Homo sapiens: one gene and its partner. The protein of the gene in region 2 purifies or fractionates together with the protein of the main gene of each other region. This does not show direct contact. Each region holds a gene or a part of one and is shown on either strand. Other genes may lie near its edges.

What was found.
Region 1: the proteins of HDAC8 (region 2) and ADD3 purify together in Homo sapiens (affinity purification with mass spectrometry; one large-scale study listed by BioGRID and IntAct). This does not show direct contact.

Annotation. Positions count from the first base shown.
Region 1 is NC_000010.11:110,122,790-110,126,615, reverse strand, and holds part of ADD3 (gamma-adducin), read right to left. Parts: intron 2,600-3,826; coding exon 2,342-2,599; intron 791-2,341; coding exon 671-790; intron 200-670; coding exon 113-199; intron 1-112. UniProt on the Homo sapiens protein: Membrane-cytoskeleton-associated protein that promotes the assembly of the spectrin-actin network. Plays a role in actin filament capping. Binds to calmodulin.
Region 2 is NC_000023.11:72,485,611-72,489,436, forward strand, and holds part of HDAC8 (histone deacetylase 8), read right to left. Parts: intron 3,432-3,826; coding exon 3,323-3,431; intron 1-3,322. UniProt on the Homo sapiens protein: Histone deacetylase that catalyzes the deacetylation of lysine residues on the N-terminal part of the core histones (H2A, H2B, H3 and H4).

The DNA of each region.
Region 1 (3,826 bases), on a different chromosome or scaffold from region 2:
TTTTTAACTTGTGCTTATATTAACCTTAGTAAAAATAAATATTCATATTTAAAAATCAATGAAATTAATGTGGTAAATAAAAAACAAAGATCATACTACTTCATAAACTTACAGAAGGTGGCTTATCCACAACAATTCCAGCAAGCAACTGAGATTGTGGTCCTGCTGTTTTCAAGTCATATCGATTTTGTTCCCGAATCTGAATTGAAAAACAATTCAATATAAAGTTCTTGAGGGCAACTATGCAGATGACCTTTGCTTTATCTTTTCATAAAAGCTTACTACTTGACATTTCCAGAGTGAGAGTCTCTTCAATTCCCACCTCCATAAAGACCTCTTTTACCATCCTAACAACTCATATTAGTCTCCTCTGCTCTTTATGGCAAGTTATTTCCTTTCGTCTTAGGTTGTTAGAGAACTGCATTTTCCCCCTAATAGCAGGGTTCTCTAACGCAGAAAAATGTTCAATACATCTTCCCCATGTAGCCTGTTCACCAATTACTAGCACAGAGCTGGAGGCATTCAATATAAGCTAAAATTATACTGAATTAAATTCCAAATTCTTCTGTATTCAAACTTCTAAGTTTGGCATTAACCAGATTCAACCACTGGTGATTTAAACATAAAGCAATTAAAATGTCTCCCCTGGCTATAGAAGACCATGTCTTACCTTATTTCTCTTTTCTAGTACCTCATTCGGGTTTGTGTTTAAAGGAACAAACTGATTTGGATCTTCAATTTTGATAGGTGTTCCACCACTAACTTTAGATGAGTCTTCTGCTTTCATCCACTAAAGAATCAAAAATTTTCTAAAATGAAGCTTTGTGTTAAGAAAATATTAGTAGATTGTTAGATAACTGCTTATAGTCTCAAGAGGGGCATTGCCAATGTTTAAATAATTTCACTAAGCAGTATCTTAGTGGTGAATTAGTTTCATCTCATACTAGTTAGAAAAGGCTCAAAATCAACATTTACTTAAAAAATAAATGCCATTACGATTCACATAAATATTCAATTATACTGCTAATTAAACTTTCTCCTTGTGTCAAGTGAAAATATGATGCTGAAACTACTTCAAGCACAGAGAGCATGATCTCACATTCACTCACATTCAGTGTTTTGTCTTCTGCACTGAAGACAGCAGTCAGATGAAGATGGCAAAGGAGTAATCAAAAAAAAAAAAAACTTAAGAAATATCTTAAGATTTTAGTTTATCAGACTTCACTTTTTATTTTTGGCTGACAGAAAAGGCCAAGCCCTAATCGGCATTTTATAATGGGGATAATCTGGTATATAATAGCAAAATAGAACCACGGGGTTGGAAGGAGCTTACATAATTCTTCTCATTTACCCCATATTATAATCCTTAAAGAAAGCGAATCTCGATCAAGATTAATGATGGCTGACCATCAATCTCTGTAAACAAAATGAATTCTGAGAAACCAATGAGTTTAATTATGTTCTTTTACTGGGAGGCAAGAAATCTTATAGACTACAGAAAAGACATTTTGATGCCTAGGTATTTTCATATTGAATGCCATTAGTTTATATAAGATGAACTAATTCTGAATATCTAGAACTGTGGTGTCCAATCTTTTGACTTCCCTGGGCCACATTGGAAGAACTGTCTTGGGCCACATATAAAATACACCAACACTAACGATAGCTGATTAGTTTAACAAAATCACAAAAAATTCTCATAATGTTTTAATAAAGTTTACAAATTTGTGTTGAGCTGCATCCAAAGCCATCCTGGGCCATGGACTGGACAAGACTGACCTAGAGAATGTTTGGTGGTATGCACTCCAAAACCAAACCAAACCAAATCTAATGCAAAATTCTGAAAAAGATAAAATAACCCATTTCTCTACCTACAAGATCTTGCCTAAGGGTAGCTATGTGCAGTGATTCATGCAGCTTTGGTACAATTAGGAGTTGATAACTTTTACAGTTTTAATTCACTGGTGAATTAAACTACTGGTGTAGTTTAATAGAAACTACAAAGCAGTATCATGTAGTGGACAAGAACTGGGCTCAAGAGTCAGACTGTCTTCATGCAAATCCCGAGTTTACCATTAAAACATGATTAATTAACCCTTCTTGCCTTGGTTTTCTCATCTATAAAATAGAAAAACAGCATCATTCATATTAGGAGAGTTAAATGAGAAAATTCGTGTATGGCACTTAGAAGAGTGTCTTGCACAAAGTTAAAGCCAGATAAGTGACAGTAATATTTTTAATATTATTTTACTTTCCAAATATTTTCAATATAGAACATTCAATTCTTGAGTAACTAGGCAAAATATTTAGTAAAGGCAAACTACATAAAATACTGGCATACCGTGATTTTGGTTCGGGGACTGGTTTCTCCGTTCCGAGACTCCTCAGGCACATTCACTTTCATGTAAGTATTTGGTGAGTTCAGCCATCTTGTTTTTTCACGCTGTTGCCTCTGTGCCATGTATTTGAGAGGAGAGAGTGGCACTGTATCGTCTTCAAAGGAAAAAGCAGTCACAGTTGCTGGGATTTCCACATCACTCTTGTGCCTAGGCTTCTCTCGAATGAGAGGATGCCTGTAAGCATAGCCTGTTCTATACCCCTAAGGGAGGGAAAAGCCACATTTGAAGCATCAAACCTGTATCAATAACAGCATTTGGATCCTAATTCCTTTTGTATACAAATGATTTAAAAGACTCCTTTGCTAAAAAACAAAGAAAAAGGCATCCTTCCAAACACCACATAACTTTCATGTAACACTGGAGCTGAAATTATGCAAATTTCAAGACCTAGTTAGAGCTGATAACAGCTGATATTGCAATTTCCACTCACACAACTGTTCCCGACAAACGAACAGTTCTAAGTTGCTGACCAGAAGTGCTTTTCTATCTATAAAACTGTTCTGGGGAAGCAAATCTCAGTGCTCATTTAAGTCTCTGTTCCTGGGTCTGAAGGCAGTCAGCCTTCTGAGCCTTCACAGAAGAGGGTAAAATCTAAAATAACATTTGCCAAACCATACATCTTTTAAGGGGTTACTATCCAAAATATATAGGGGACTCAAAAAATAACAAGAGAAGAACCCAATTAAAAAATAGGCAAAGGATCTGAATAAACATTTCTCAAAAGAAGACATACAAATGGTCAACAAGTGTATTAAAACATCACTAATCAAGAAAATGCAAATTAAAGCACGAGATGGCATGTCCTGTTAGAATCGCTATTATAAAAAAGATGAAAGACAACAAGTGTTAGAATGTAGGGAGAAAGGGACCCTTTGCACACTGTTGGTAGCAATGTAAATTAGTATAGCCATTGTGGAAAACAGTATGGAGGTTCCTCATACAATTAAAAATAAAACTACCATATCACCCAACAGTCTCACTACCAGATATATATCCAAAGGGAATGTACTCAGTATGTCAAAGAGGTATCTGTACTCTCATGTTAGGTACACCATTATTCACAATAGCCAAGATATGGAATCATCCTAAGTGTCCATTGATGGATGGGATATAAATGTGGTATATACAACATAATGGAATACTATTCAGCTTTAAAAAAGAAATTCTGTCAAATGTGACAACATGGATGAACCTAGAGGACATTGTATTAAATAAAATAAACCAGGCACAGAAAGACAAATACCCCATGATCTCACTTATATACAGAGTCTTAAAAAGTTGAACTTGTTGGGCATGGCAGCTCACGCCAGTAATCCCAGCACTTTGGGAGGCTGAGGTGGGAGGACTGCTTGAGCCCAGGAATTCAAGACCAGCCTGGGCAACATGGAGAAACCCTATCTCTACAAAAAGTAAAAAAAAAAAAATAA
Region 2 (3,826 bases):
AAAAGGAAAAGACAAGACAAGAAAAGGAAGGAAGGAAGAAAAGTAAAAGAAAGAAGAAAGAAAGAAGGAAAAGGAAAAAGGAGCAATTTATGAGCAAACTAGAAATTGGGTGGCAAATAAAAATGAGAGCATCTTATAAGTGAACCAGCAATAAGAGGTCCTTTACACATCACAAGTAAGGAGTGAGCCAGAGAACCAGTGGGGTCATGAAATAAAAAGGATGAAAAGGGGCTAGGCGTGGTGGCTCATGCCTGTAATCCCAGCACTTTGGGAGGCCGAGGTGGGTGGATCACGAGGTCAGGAGATCGAGACCATAGTGGCTAACACGGTGAAACCCCGTCTCTACTAAAAATACAAAAAAATTAGTCGGGTGTGGTGGCAGGCGCCTGTAGTCCCAGCTACTGGGGAGGCTGAGGCAGGAGAATGGCGTGAACCCGGAAGGCAGAGCTTGCAGTGAGCCTAGATCGCCGACAGAGTGAGACACCATCTCCAAAAAAATAAAAATAAATAAATAAAATAAAATAAAAGGATGAAAAGAAGATAGTAGATAAACTAAATGACTTTTTACAAAAAGATTAAGCCATTCCTCTGTGTAATATATCTTTTGAGGTAGGCAGAAGGGTCAGAGGTAACAATGGCAAATGTGTAAGAGACTGTTTCCAAGCCACATACCAGAAGTATTCAAAGGCATAATGCCTGGGACTGAGTGATCTAGTTACCAGGGCTGGCCCTCTGCAAAACTCTTGGCAAAGATCGCTGTGGTTTTTGGTACCCCTTTCCCTCTACTGCTCCACTAGGCAATTCCTGCTCCTCAGAATACTCAAGGAGCTCATGCTCTGACCCTTTCACAATTCATTCTCAAGAATGGCACTGTGAAGCTACACCTCATCTCTACTAAAAGTTTCTTTTTTTTAAATTAGCCAGATGTGGTATCGTGTGCCTGTTTGCCCCAGCTACTTGGGAAGCTGAAGCAAGGGGATCACTTGGATCCAGGAGGTCAAGGCTGCAGTGAGCTGTGATCATGCCATTGCACTCCAGCCTGGGCAACAGGGGAAGACCCTGTCCACAACCCCAAAAAAGAAAGGTTCTGTGAAACTATACTTCTATAGTACAGCAGGGGTGAGGATGAGAGGTTGTGCCAAAATTTCGTTTTAAGGACTATTTCTAATTGTAGAATAAAAGTATGTTTCCTGTTAAAGGAATTTCAGGTATTAATCCAACAGATAGGAGAGATGTTTGGGCCAGGAAGCCTCCTTGGTACCCTTGGAATCAGAGGTGCCTTCACATAATGCCCTGACCAGACTTGACTTCTGAAGGAAAGCAAAGAAAAAAAATTATTATACCTCTAATGAAAACCTGGAACCTGTTATTCTGGATGATCACTGTGTGGCTTGCATTGCCAATGTGGGTCCACAGGCAAAGGGGCCCTGGGAACTATAAACTGATGAGTGTCTGGTTCTTCAGTAGGCAAGCTGGAAGAATTTTTAATAAATGCTAGCCTCCTGTACACAAAAGCCATCAATCTATTGGGATGTGGGTGGCATCATGCTTTTTGTAAAGCGAAATCATGTGTAATCTTCTACAGATCTTTTCCTTGGGGCTAAACTTACTTTAAAAATGCTTCTGATTAGGTTTGATACCAAGGCTATTTTTAAACATGAATTACCATGGGATTTAAAATATTTTTTATCATGTAGTAGGAACTGGTCTACAGAAAAAAAAGAGAAAATATAGGGTAGAAACAGATATTTTTTCTGACTGAAGAAGGATAAATAGACTTCCTTGGGGGTGGGCACTGGAAAATCCTCAAGTCTACAGATAATACTCAGCTTTCCCAGGCAGTGAAATGCCAAGTTGATGGGAGATAAAGAAGATCTCAGGAGGTTTTATGATTGGCAGATAACCTTCAATAGGGGCACATGTAAAGTGATCCATTTAGGGCTTTGTAAGGGGTACATGTAAGGTGATCCATTTAGGGTGATCCATCTAGGGAGCACTAGATATTACAAACTATACTTGCTGGATGATGAGTGCTGACCTTTCAATTAAGACCCAGGAAAGGGCTCGAGGAGACACTGTGGACAGTGCACTGAAGAGAACAACCTAGTTTTCTGTTATGGTAAAAAAAAAAAAAAAAGGGTAACAAAATCAGGCACTGTTAAGAAAGGGATTAAAAGAAAAACAAAATAATTCTCCTTTTACATAGAACTGCAGGATATCTTTATTGGTAAAGTTACATAAGCAGCTCTGATCTGCACATCTCAAGGACAGAAGAGAGCTTAAGGGGAACAAAGAAGGGCAATTAAACCATTGATGGCAGGCTCCAAAAAAAAAAAAAAAAAGTTTTTTCAGCATGATAATACAGAGGTAGCCAGGAGACATGATCAAAATTATGAAGAGGCTTATGCTGCTGAATAACTGAATGATGACTTGGCTCACCAAATCTCTTGAGCTAAGAAGCACTTTTGAAGCATAAAGTTTTTATTTTTTAATAGTTCTGCTTTGTTTATACAACTGCCAGTGATGATGGCCAGTGCAGGCAGGCTTCTTTGGGAAGAACCTCCACCAGAGGTTGGGAGAAATACGAGCTAAGTTGGGGAGGGATCAAGAGTACCTCAATCCCCGTTACTTACCTTCAGTAATGTTGACTGGCTGACTTCTATTCGGATTTGCTTTCTCTGCCACCACTTGTGCCTGACCAATCTCAATTTTTATGAATATGAGTTTAACACAACCCCCCACCCCCATTCCATAAGGCTTTTCAACTCTAGTGGTCCACACATTGGCACCAATCTGTCTGTCTACGATTGTCTGTAACTTAATCCTTAGCCATGGTGTAGAAAGAACAGGTATCTGACTCCAATTTTAACACAGTGGATAGAAGGTAAGAATGCATGATGAATAATAATAGTCAATTCTCTAATATTTACACCAGTAGAAGAAAGCACAGGTCTCCATAATGAACCCTGACAACTGAAATGAACCCTGCCAGGTTAATGAAATAAGACACATGTAGGTTTATTTAGCTAAGAAAGTAGCAAATAAGGGATTCTTCAGGATAGCAAAAAAAGCTCTGCTCTTGGGATGGGCTTAATCATATTGAGTAAGATCCAACCTGGAGCATGGCTCTGGTCCAACTGCTTGGCTCTGCCATACAGCGGATAGCTACTGATCAAATAAGCATAATGACCAGTATACAAAAGCTTTATAGGTATATAGATGTTTTCTTTTTTACATTGTTCTTGTTTACATTGTGAGATGGGGGCCATTTCATCCTACAGAACTGCAATCCACTTATTACTGGCTAGTGTTACTGCCATACCTTTCACAGATCTGGTAATATTTTTCATCTTGTATGCCATCCTGAATGGGCACATTTACACTGTAGTACCGTCCCTTCCCTAGGCCAACATCAGACACGTCACCTGTTCCTATAAAAGAGAAGAGCACTATGATCAGTTATTAGGAACATGAGAACCCAGAAAACTTAAAGGATTTCCTGATAGGGAAATTTCTAGGGAAAGAAATTAAGAAAAATTATATAAAGAAGTAAGTATTGTAAACAATCTTGGAGAAGCAGGCAAATCATAAGGAAACTGAAAAACCTCAGTTTTCACCTTACTGGATCAAATGAAAAAATAAGAGATTAACTCCTTTGCTTGGCTTCATGCTTTTTAGGTTGACATAACATCAATTTATCACTGCAATTATTCAGGATGTTAGGAGTTGCATGGGGTGTCTACTAGTATAGTAAGCATAAGTGATCTGTTAACAGTCCATAAAAATCACCTGGAAAAAGAAACAGCTTTAATGTCATTCTTCTTGT